Regions from separate parts of the Homo sapiens genome. Here region 1 is linked to region 2. Evidence: fine-mapped expression QTL. A gene starts in region 2. The other region holds a variant in brackets. All regions are shown on one strand. Distances are from middle to middle. Region 1 overlaps ZNF367 (zinc finger protein 367). Region 2 holds the start of SLC35D2 (solute carrier family 35 member D2).

Evidence for each region. PIP is the estimated chance that this variant, and not a neighbour inherited with it, causes the effect. A credible set is the group of variants that fine-mapping cannot tell apart.
Region 1: its variant is the best candidate, but not a certain one, in a credible set for the expression of SLC35D2 in whole blood (TOPMed, PIP 0.50).

What each region holds. Positions count from the first base shown.
Region 1 is chr9:96,411,431-96,415,822 of GRCh38, reverse strand. All of the region lies in intron 1 of ZNF367 (zinc finger protein 367), which reads left to right. Among named protein-coding and RNA genes, the nearest start is that of ZNF367, 4.7 kb to the left of the region's middle. RefSeq lists enhancers at 2,015-2,144, 2,448-2,617. The variant A/G (reference allele first, on the strand shown) is at 2,649.
Region 2 is chr9:96,381,277-96,385,668 of GRCh38, reverse strand. It overlaps SLC35D2 (solute carrier family 35 member D2), which reads left to right and starts at 1,958. Exons shown (of 12, transcript NM_007001.3): 1 at 1,958-2,192. The coding sequence starts at 2,035. SLC35D2-HSD17B3 (SLC35D2-HSD17B3 readthrough) reads left to right here and starts at 1,958. Exons shown (of 26, transcript NR_182427.1): 1 at 1,958-2,192. RefSeq lists silencers at 1,970-2,299, 2,310-2,359.

The DNA of each region.
Region 1 (4,392 bases), 30 kb before region 2:
TCTTTAACAAAAATTGAAGAAACTTGCCAGGTGCGGTGGCTCACGCCTGTAATCCCAGCACTTTGGGAGGCTGAGGCGGGTGGATCACCTGAGGTCCAGGAGTTCGAGACCAGCCTGACCAACATGGTGAAACCCTGTCTCTACTAAAAATATAAAAATTCGCCGGACGTGGTGGCGGGCGCCCGTAATCCCAGCTACTTGGGAGGCTAAGGCAGGAGAATTGGTAGAACTCGGGAGGCGGCGGTTGCAGTGAGCCGAGATTGCGCCATTGCACTCCAGCCTGGGGGACAGAGTGAGACTCCGTCTCAAAAAAAAAAAAAAAAAAAAAAAAAAAAAAAAAAAATGAAGAAACTAACGATAGAAGCGTTGATAGTATTGCTGAGTATTACTAAAGGCTACAGTTGCTGTTGGGCTGCCTCTAGGTATCCCCTAGTGAGATGTAAGATGGATCGGTATCCACCGGGTGGGTGGCTCACGCCTGTAATCCAAGCACTTTGGGACACCGAGGCAGGCGGATCACAAGGTCAGGAGATAGAGACCATCCTGGCTAACACGGTGAAACCCCGTCTCTACTAAAAATACAAAAAAAAAAAAAAAAAAATTGGCCAGGGGTGGTGGCTGGCGCCTGTAGTCCCACCTGCTCGGGAGGCTGAGGCAGGAGAATGGCGTGAACCCGGGAGGCGGAGCTTGCAGTGAGCCGAGATCGTGCCACTGCACTCCAGCCTGGGCGACAGAGCAAGACTCTGTCTCAGAAAAAAAAAAAAAAAAATTTGGATGGGTATCCTAGGTATTTTTGTGTTAACCATTTATAAGTTTTAGTCTTTTAAAAAAAACACTAAATTAGATTATGTAGTTGAACAATATAAAGGCATACATTCATAAGTTCTTGTGTAAGATTTTGCCTTTATGGTTTTATTCTTATAGATTAATCTAGTTCTGGATCACCCAAGAAGATTAATGTTATATAGATGAAATCTATAGGTATGTTGTTTTTGGCCTAAAACAGACTTGTCCTTACCCAGACATTTTATAAAAATTGCTAACTGTGGCCAGGCGCGGAGGCTCACGCCTGTAATCCCAGCACTTTGGGAGGCCGAGGCTGGCTGGTCACGAGGTCAAGAGATCGAGACCATCCTGGCCAACATGGTGAAACCCTGTCTCTACTAAAAATACAAAAATTACCTGGGTGTGGTGGCACACCCCTGTAGTCCCAGCTACTTGGGAGGCTAAGGCAGGAGAATCACATGAACCCTGGAGACGGAGGTTGCAGTGAGCCGAGATCGTGCAACTGCACTCCAGCCTGGCCACAGTGAGACTCCGTCTTAAAAAAAAAAAATTGCTAACAAGATGCATGGGTTTGAATTGTATTTCCATGCTGTACACCTCTTTTCAGAGGTAAAGTATACCAACGGTTGTAAAAAACATGTAAAAGTGAAATGGCTGTTTTATATTTCTGCTTTTTTCTTTTCTCATGTAGTTTTTCCTGTTGTAACTTTCATAAATTATTTGGTAAATTGATTTGAATATGTCTTTCTATTGATGAAGCAATCCACATGCAGCTCCAAAAATTCATTTATTTAGCTTTCCCACCGTAAGACAGAAGGGTCTGGAATACACCTTTATTTAAGAAAGTTGCTAGCTAGACTAAGCTTTGTGGGGGCAAGAAGGAAAAAGAAAAAAATAAGGAAGTTGCTTAGTTTGATTTGTGGTCAGTACACTGAACTACAAAGATAGAGAGTCCCAGCCTGTTTTACTGTTTTGCTTCTTTAAAGTACTTGTAGTTCCTTATCTCCATGTGCATCATCAGGGAATTGTGCTGAGTCTGCTCATTTTTGGGGAAGAGAGGAGACAAGTCTGCAATATAGCCAGTGCCAATAACATTCTCCCAATATGCCACATAGAGGCACTAACAGCTGTGGGTTTGAGAACAATATTTGCGTTCATTTACTGTCTATTCTTTGCCACTTCTCCCAGGGGAGGTGTCAGCGTCTGAGTCCTGCACACCCTGTGTCAGCTTTCTCTTGCTCTTTTGATTGTTCCTGCCCAACACTGCCTCCCTCGCCTGTGGGAACACCTACTAGCTTATTTTGGCTGCTCATCACACGAGTGCTTAGCACTGTTGGCATATAATTATATATTATCTTCTTCTGGATTGTAGAATTCTGAGAGGGAAGAAAGCAGGTCTAACTGCCTTCTGCCACAAGTTGTTCCAAGGCTCCCCACCTTGTCCCTGTGCCCTCTACTAAGACTGCATTTGAAGTTACTTCTTCACTGGGGCTGGTGGGGTCTGGCTTCTCAGATACTATTCACCCTACAGGATCTACCGGCTGCCGTATCCTACTTCCCCTTTCTGTGTCACCTGAACACTTCAAAACCTAGACTGTACATACTGTTACGAATAGCTGATTTTTAAATACTTTATACATAATACATAAATTCATAGTATTTATGAATAGTAATGTTTGAGCACCATGTTAAACCTAACATCATGTTAACATAGTAGGCACTATTTATTGCCTGGCACAGAGTAAGCATTTCATAATGTTAGCAGCAAACTGCTGGGCTCTGTGTTGAGCATTTTGAATTCTTTAATTCATTTTATCCTGTTTACCTGATGAGGAATGAGAAATTAGAGTCCCCAAGACAAA[A/G]TCTAGTTAAGATTGTATGGTAAGTGGCAGAACTGATCGGAACCTTCTAGAGTCCCTGTTCTTAGTCCCTATACTGCACTGCTCCTGGGACTATCACATGTAAATAGACTTCAGGGGTTTATTTTTGTTTTTTAAATATTAAGCTGAGATAAGTAGACATAAGAAATACATACTATTGGCCGGGCATGCTGGCTGATGCCTGTAATCCCAGCACTTTGAGAGGCCAAGGTGGATGGATCACTTGAGGCCAGGAGTTTGAGACCAACCTGGCCAACATGGTGAAACCCTGTCTCTACTAAAAATACAAAAAAATTAGCTGGGCATGGTGGTGCACACCTATAGTCCCGGCTACTCGGGAGGCTGAGGCATGAGAATCACATGAACCCGGGAGGCAGAGGTTGCAATGAGCTGAGATTGTGCCACTGCACTCCAGCCTGGGCGACTAAGCGAGATTCTGTCTCAAAAAAAAAAAAAAAAGAAAAGAAAAAGAAAAAAGAAATACATACTATGTATAGCTTATCTATGTCTCAATTGAGATGCTTTATAAAAGTGCACTCAATTCAATAAACTGGAATTAAAACTTGAGAAGTTGTGAAGATAGGTCAGGATGGGAAGTAGGTAGTTACAAGTTAGGAAGCATGTATGCAAGTCATGGGAAGTTTGTATCTAAATCTGAATGTGAAAAGGTTCACACGCCTCCCTCTGAGACCTATTTTTGTTTTCCTTCTAGGTTGTGCTTGTTCCCTTTATTTGAATTCTACTTATAAAAATGTGTCAAGGACTTTTAGGTTTTTTAGTTATCACATGACTAAACACTTTCAAAATCACTAATCAACCTTCTAGAGGTATGGAGATTGTTTTTAAAATTATAATTACTAAGGTATGCAAAAGTTTTTGGCAATTTAATAATTTTGTGTTGCGAATCGTCAACAGTCTTGACAAGATCTGTCCTTAGCCTCCAGGTGCACTTGGCTGCTGAGTGTAACACTCTGTAATTGTCCGAAGATGCCTAGAAACATGGTTTTCTCATTGTTAAGGCCAAAAGGAAGAGGGTCCTCTTTAAGTAACATTGCTTATTTTAATATGTATTGTTAAAAGATGGTCTTTATTCATTTATTTAGGGCATTATATGATTATTTGTTTTGTCTTATTTTCTGAGCTAAAATAATGCACTTATTAATTAGCTGGGCATGGTGACGCTTGCCTATAGTCCCAGCTACTTGGGAGGCTGAGGCAGGAGAATCGCATGAACCCAGGAGGCGGAGGTTGCAGTGAGCTGAGATCATGCCACTGTACTCTAGCCTGGGCGACAGAGCCAGAGTCCATCTCAAAAAACAAAAACAAAACAAAAAAACCCAAAAGAATGCACTTAGTGAACCCTTCCCTGTATATGGCCAGTATGTTGTATTATGCTGTATATTTCAGCACTCACTCCATTTCTCATTTGGAAAATATAAATGTGTTGCTGGTGGCAGAAACAGTCTCTTAGAGTTGCTGGGAGGCAGCCATATGGTTAACTTTTTTTTTTATGTTAACTAATCAGTTATTTCAAATTGCAAAAGTCAGCAATATGTTCTTGCATATTTATTTGTTTACTTATTTTTTATGTTTTTCAGACGAAGTCTCACTCTGTCACCCAGGCTGAGTGCAGTGGCACTGTTAGGGCTCACTGCAGCCTTGAACTCCCACTCTCAAGTGATCCTCCCACCTCAGCCTCAAGTGATCCTCCCACCTCAGCCTCCTG
Region 2 (4,392 bases):
TGAACTATTGCCACCCCATTTCCAGGCCTTAAATTAGGGTAATAAGGAAAAGGGATTTCATTTCACTTACATTTAGGATGGGTTGTCTCTGGGGTCAGCTCCTCAAGAATCCATTTAAAGCCTGTGTACTTTTCTAAGAGTCTAGCAAATTGGTTTTCTTTTTTCATCAGTTATTTTTGGTAGATCTTTAGTTGTGTATTTGCAGTGGCAAGGGTCAGCCTGTCCTACCCTTGTGCAGAAGAATATCACAAGCAACTCCTTAGTGTGAGTTGCTGTTTAAACAGGGTAAGGATGGGATTTTGACAGCGAGGTAAGGTCCTGGAAGTATGTGTATACAATCAAACTAAATGCAATTATGATGAAGGTCATCATTAAAAATAACTTTAAAATATTCTTTTTGCAGTCAAAACATTTGGAGACTCACAAGAAAATTGAATGTTCTGAGGAAATTAACCAAAATGACCGATTTCCTGTTTAACTTGAATATGGATTCATTTTCTCTTTTAAAACGGACTTAACATGTCTTTTCTTTCTTGTTTTGGGTAACTTGGGCACTTCTGGTCTTTTTAATGCTAGCTAATTTTCACGAGTTCTGCTTTAGTTCTTATCAGGGCTGAAAATGTTTCCCAGTTTTCATTCTCCTGGTTGTTTAGTGCCTAAGGGTAGAAAAACAATTCTCTGGGCATCTATATAGTTAGGCCCCAACTTTTATTTAACTTGAAATCTTAAGCTTTTCTAAGAAGCTAAAAGTTCATATATATATATATATATAATATACATTATATATTAAATATATAATATATATATTTTTGAGACGGAGGCTTGCTCTGTCGCCCAGGCTGGAGTGCAGTGGCGCGATCTCGCCTCACTGCAAGCTCTGCCTCCCGGGTTCACGCCATTCTCCTGCCTCAGCCTCCTGAGTAGCTGGGACTACAGGCGCCCGCCACCACGCCCGGCTAATTTTTTTTGTATCTTTAGTAGAGACGGGGTTTCACCGTGTTAGCCAGGATGGTCTCGATCTCCTGACCTCGTGATCTGCCCGCCTCGGTCTCCCAAAGTGCTGGGATTACATGTGTGAGCCACCGCGCCTGGCCAAAAGTTCATATTTTTTAAAGACTGACAAGGGTAGGCGGTTCTGGGAAGCTGTCCTTCAACTGACCTGACCCGAAGGCAAACGGCCCTCCGCGAGGAATGCACCTACCACAAAGCACCCAGAGGACACCCAAGTCCCAAGGCTTCACCCACCTTACTCCTAGCCACTCCACTCCTAGATATTTATTTAAGAGAAATGAAGACACAGGTCCCACAAACGCCCACGAATTTTCATGGAAGCATTTTTCCTAATGGTCCTAAACTGGAAACAACCAATGGATACACAATTTGTGATACTATTCAACGATTAAACAAACCACATGGTCGAGTCCAAAGCATAGAGTGAAAACCCCTGAGACCACATGCTCATTCATAAATTCTAGAAAGCACCCTGTTTATTTGAAATTCCGGAAAAGGCAAACCTAACCTACAGCAATAGTCATCGATGAGATGCGGGCGTTAACTTCAAAGGGGCAGCAAGGGGAATTTTTGGGGCGATGGAAATGTTGTTTTGAGTAGTTACTCCTGTGGATGCCTTTGTCGAAGCTCATCTCAAACTATGGACTGGCAAGATGTGTACACTTCATTGTATGTAAATTATACACTAAACAAAAAAGTTGTAGGGAAAAAAAAAAAAAAGCAAAACAAGCCCTGAGACTTACTGAAGCGTTTCTTTCCAGGAAAGCCTGGAGGAAGGCAGCGCTTTTCAACTCCCCAGCGCATTGCCGGCCCTGGAGACCGAAGGAGGTGCCTGGAACCAGGGTGAAGTCCAGCGCGCAGGGTCCTCCCGCGCCGGCCTCGGGCGCTCGCAGGGGGCGGGTCGGGACCTGGGATTGCGCCGGGCTCTTCCTGTTCCTGCCGCGCCCTCTTCCCCGGCCCGGCCGGGCGGGACCAGTGCGCAGCCGGGGCTGGCGGGCGGCGGGGTCCGCGGGGCCGCAGGAGATGACGGCCGGCGGCCAGGCCGAGGCCGAGGGCGCTGGCGGGGAGCCCGGCGCGGCGCGGCTGCCCTCGCGGGTGGCCCGGCTGCTGTCGGCGCTCTTCTACGGGACCTGCTCCTTCCTCATCGTGCTTGTCAACAAGGCGCTGCTGACCACCTACGGGTGAGGCGGGGCCCGGGGCCGGGGGGTCTGCGGGAGTGCGGGGCTGCCCCTGTCCTCCGTGCGCTTCAGCGGCGCCCGGGACAGGGCGGGTGGGGACAGGGACCCTCGAGTCTCAGCTGGGCACATTGGTCGAGTTTCCCAGGCGCCCTCCAGAACTCGCTCAGCTTTCTACACTCAGGCCACAACCTGAGAAAGTCGTTCTCTTCCTGAGCGCGCCTGCCCTGCTGCGAGGCGCCCTGTCCTAGGTGGGCTGGTAGAGCTCAGACAGATTCTTTCATACACCCAGCGAGCTGAAAACAGGGATTCAAATGCCTGCTTCAAAGGACGCAATTCCTTACACAGATCTCCATGTTCAACGGTCAGGTACTCCTGAGCCAGTAAGTCTGTATTGATTGACTGTTCATTCTCAGATGACCAGCGTGTTCATGGAAAACTCGGGAAAACAATTGGAAGTTCATATGGAGTACTTTTTTGGATTAGTGTGAAGTAAACGCAAATTTGTGCTGCCTTGAACCTATTTGTAAGGACTAGAAAATCCTGCTTAATTCTGCTACCATTGTAGCGGCACTGAGAAAATTGTGGATTTAGACCCAGCTCCACCGGTTAACACCTGTCTTTTTGGACCAGTCTCACAGTCAGCAATTTTTTTCAGATGCAAAAAACCTGAATGATTACAATCGTGTTAATTACCCTCCAGGGCTCTGCACGAGCTGTTATATGTGAAGGCTCTTTGTAAACTCTACTATGTTACAAGAATATGCCATCAACATTTTAGAGCCCAAAGAGACCTAGAGTGTCTTAGTTAGAGAGTATCTTAGAGTATCAGCTTTCTTTTTTTATATATACATACAGATTCAGCTTATGTGGGTCTCACTTTTCTCGAATATAAAATACGAAAGCTGAGGCTGGCTGAGGTGGTTTGCACCTGTAATCACAGCATTTGGGAGGCCAAGGCAGGCATATATATATATATATATATAGTGTGTGTGTGTGTGTGTGTGTGTGTGTGTATAATATTTTTTTGAGACAAGGTTTCACTCTGTTGCCTAGGCTGGAGTGTAGTGACACAATCATGACTCACTGCAGCCTCGACCATCTGGGTTCAAGCAATCCTTCTGCTGCAGCCTCCAGAGAAGCTGGGACCATAGGTGTGCACCACTGCACCGGCAATTTTTTTGATTTTTTGTAGAGGTGGGGTCTCAGTGTGTTTCCAAGGCTGGTCTAGGCCTGCTTTGGCCTCCCAAAGTGCTGTGATTACAGGTGCAAACTATCTCATCCAGCCTCACCTTTCTTATTTTATATTCGAGAAAACTGAGGCCCACATAAGCTCGATTGGTTGTACCTCCAACAGATATTTATTAAGCACCTACTAAATACTGAGCCCATTGCAAGCACCAGGGAAGCCTCTGTGAACAGCACAAGGTCCCTGCTCTGGAGATTCTGCTTCAGTGGTGGAGACAGAAAATAAACAGGTAGGTTCATGAATAAACGAGACACTTTCAGATCTGATGTGAGAGTGCCTGGGCTGGAGTAGCTGTCACAGAGCATTCCAGGTAGAAGTGAGCAGCAAGTGTACAATGTGCTGAAGTGGGCATGAGCTTGGCTGCTGGAGGAACAGAGAGAAGATCACTGTGCCTGGGCGGGGAGGTAGGCAGGGAAGGCAGGAGTCAGCTCTTTCTCTCATTTTTGATAGCTTTCACTAAGCACTTGTGATGTACCAGCACTGTTCGAGGAGAACAGTGTTTTCCCACCGTTCTTGGGAAAGAGAAGTGAAAAGAGCAGATCAGAATCCTTAACTTCACGGAGCTGCATCCTTGTGGACCAATAAATGAGCCAGTAACATTTACATTATGTCAGATGTGACCAAGGTGCTGGGGAAAAAATAAAACAGGAAAGGGAGTGAGGGAGAGAGGGAGGGGAGAGTATGCAGTGTGAGCGTGATCAGTGGAGCCTCAGAAGGAGGTGGCATTGGAGCCAAGACCAGAGTGAGGTGGGGACATAAGCCACACTGGGGGACGGGGGAAGAGCATTCCAGGCCTGGAGGAGTGAAGAGTTTGAATGGGAATGGTAGCAGATGGGGTCTGAGAGTAATGGATTGCTGGCCTGTGTGGGGCCTTGGGAGGCCACCGCCAGGGCTCTGGCATCAGCTCTGAATGAGATGGGAGCCACGCAAGGTGTCAGGCAGGGGAATTACATGATC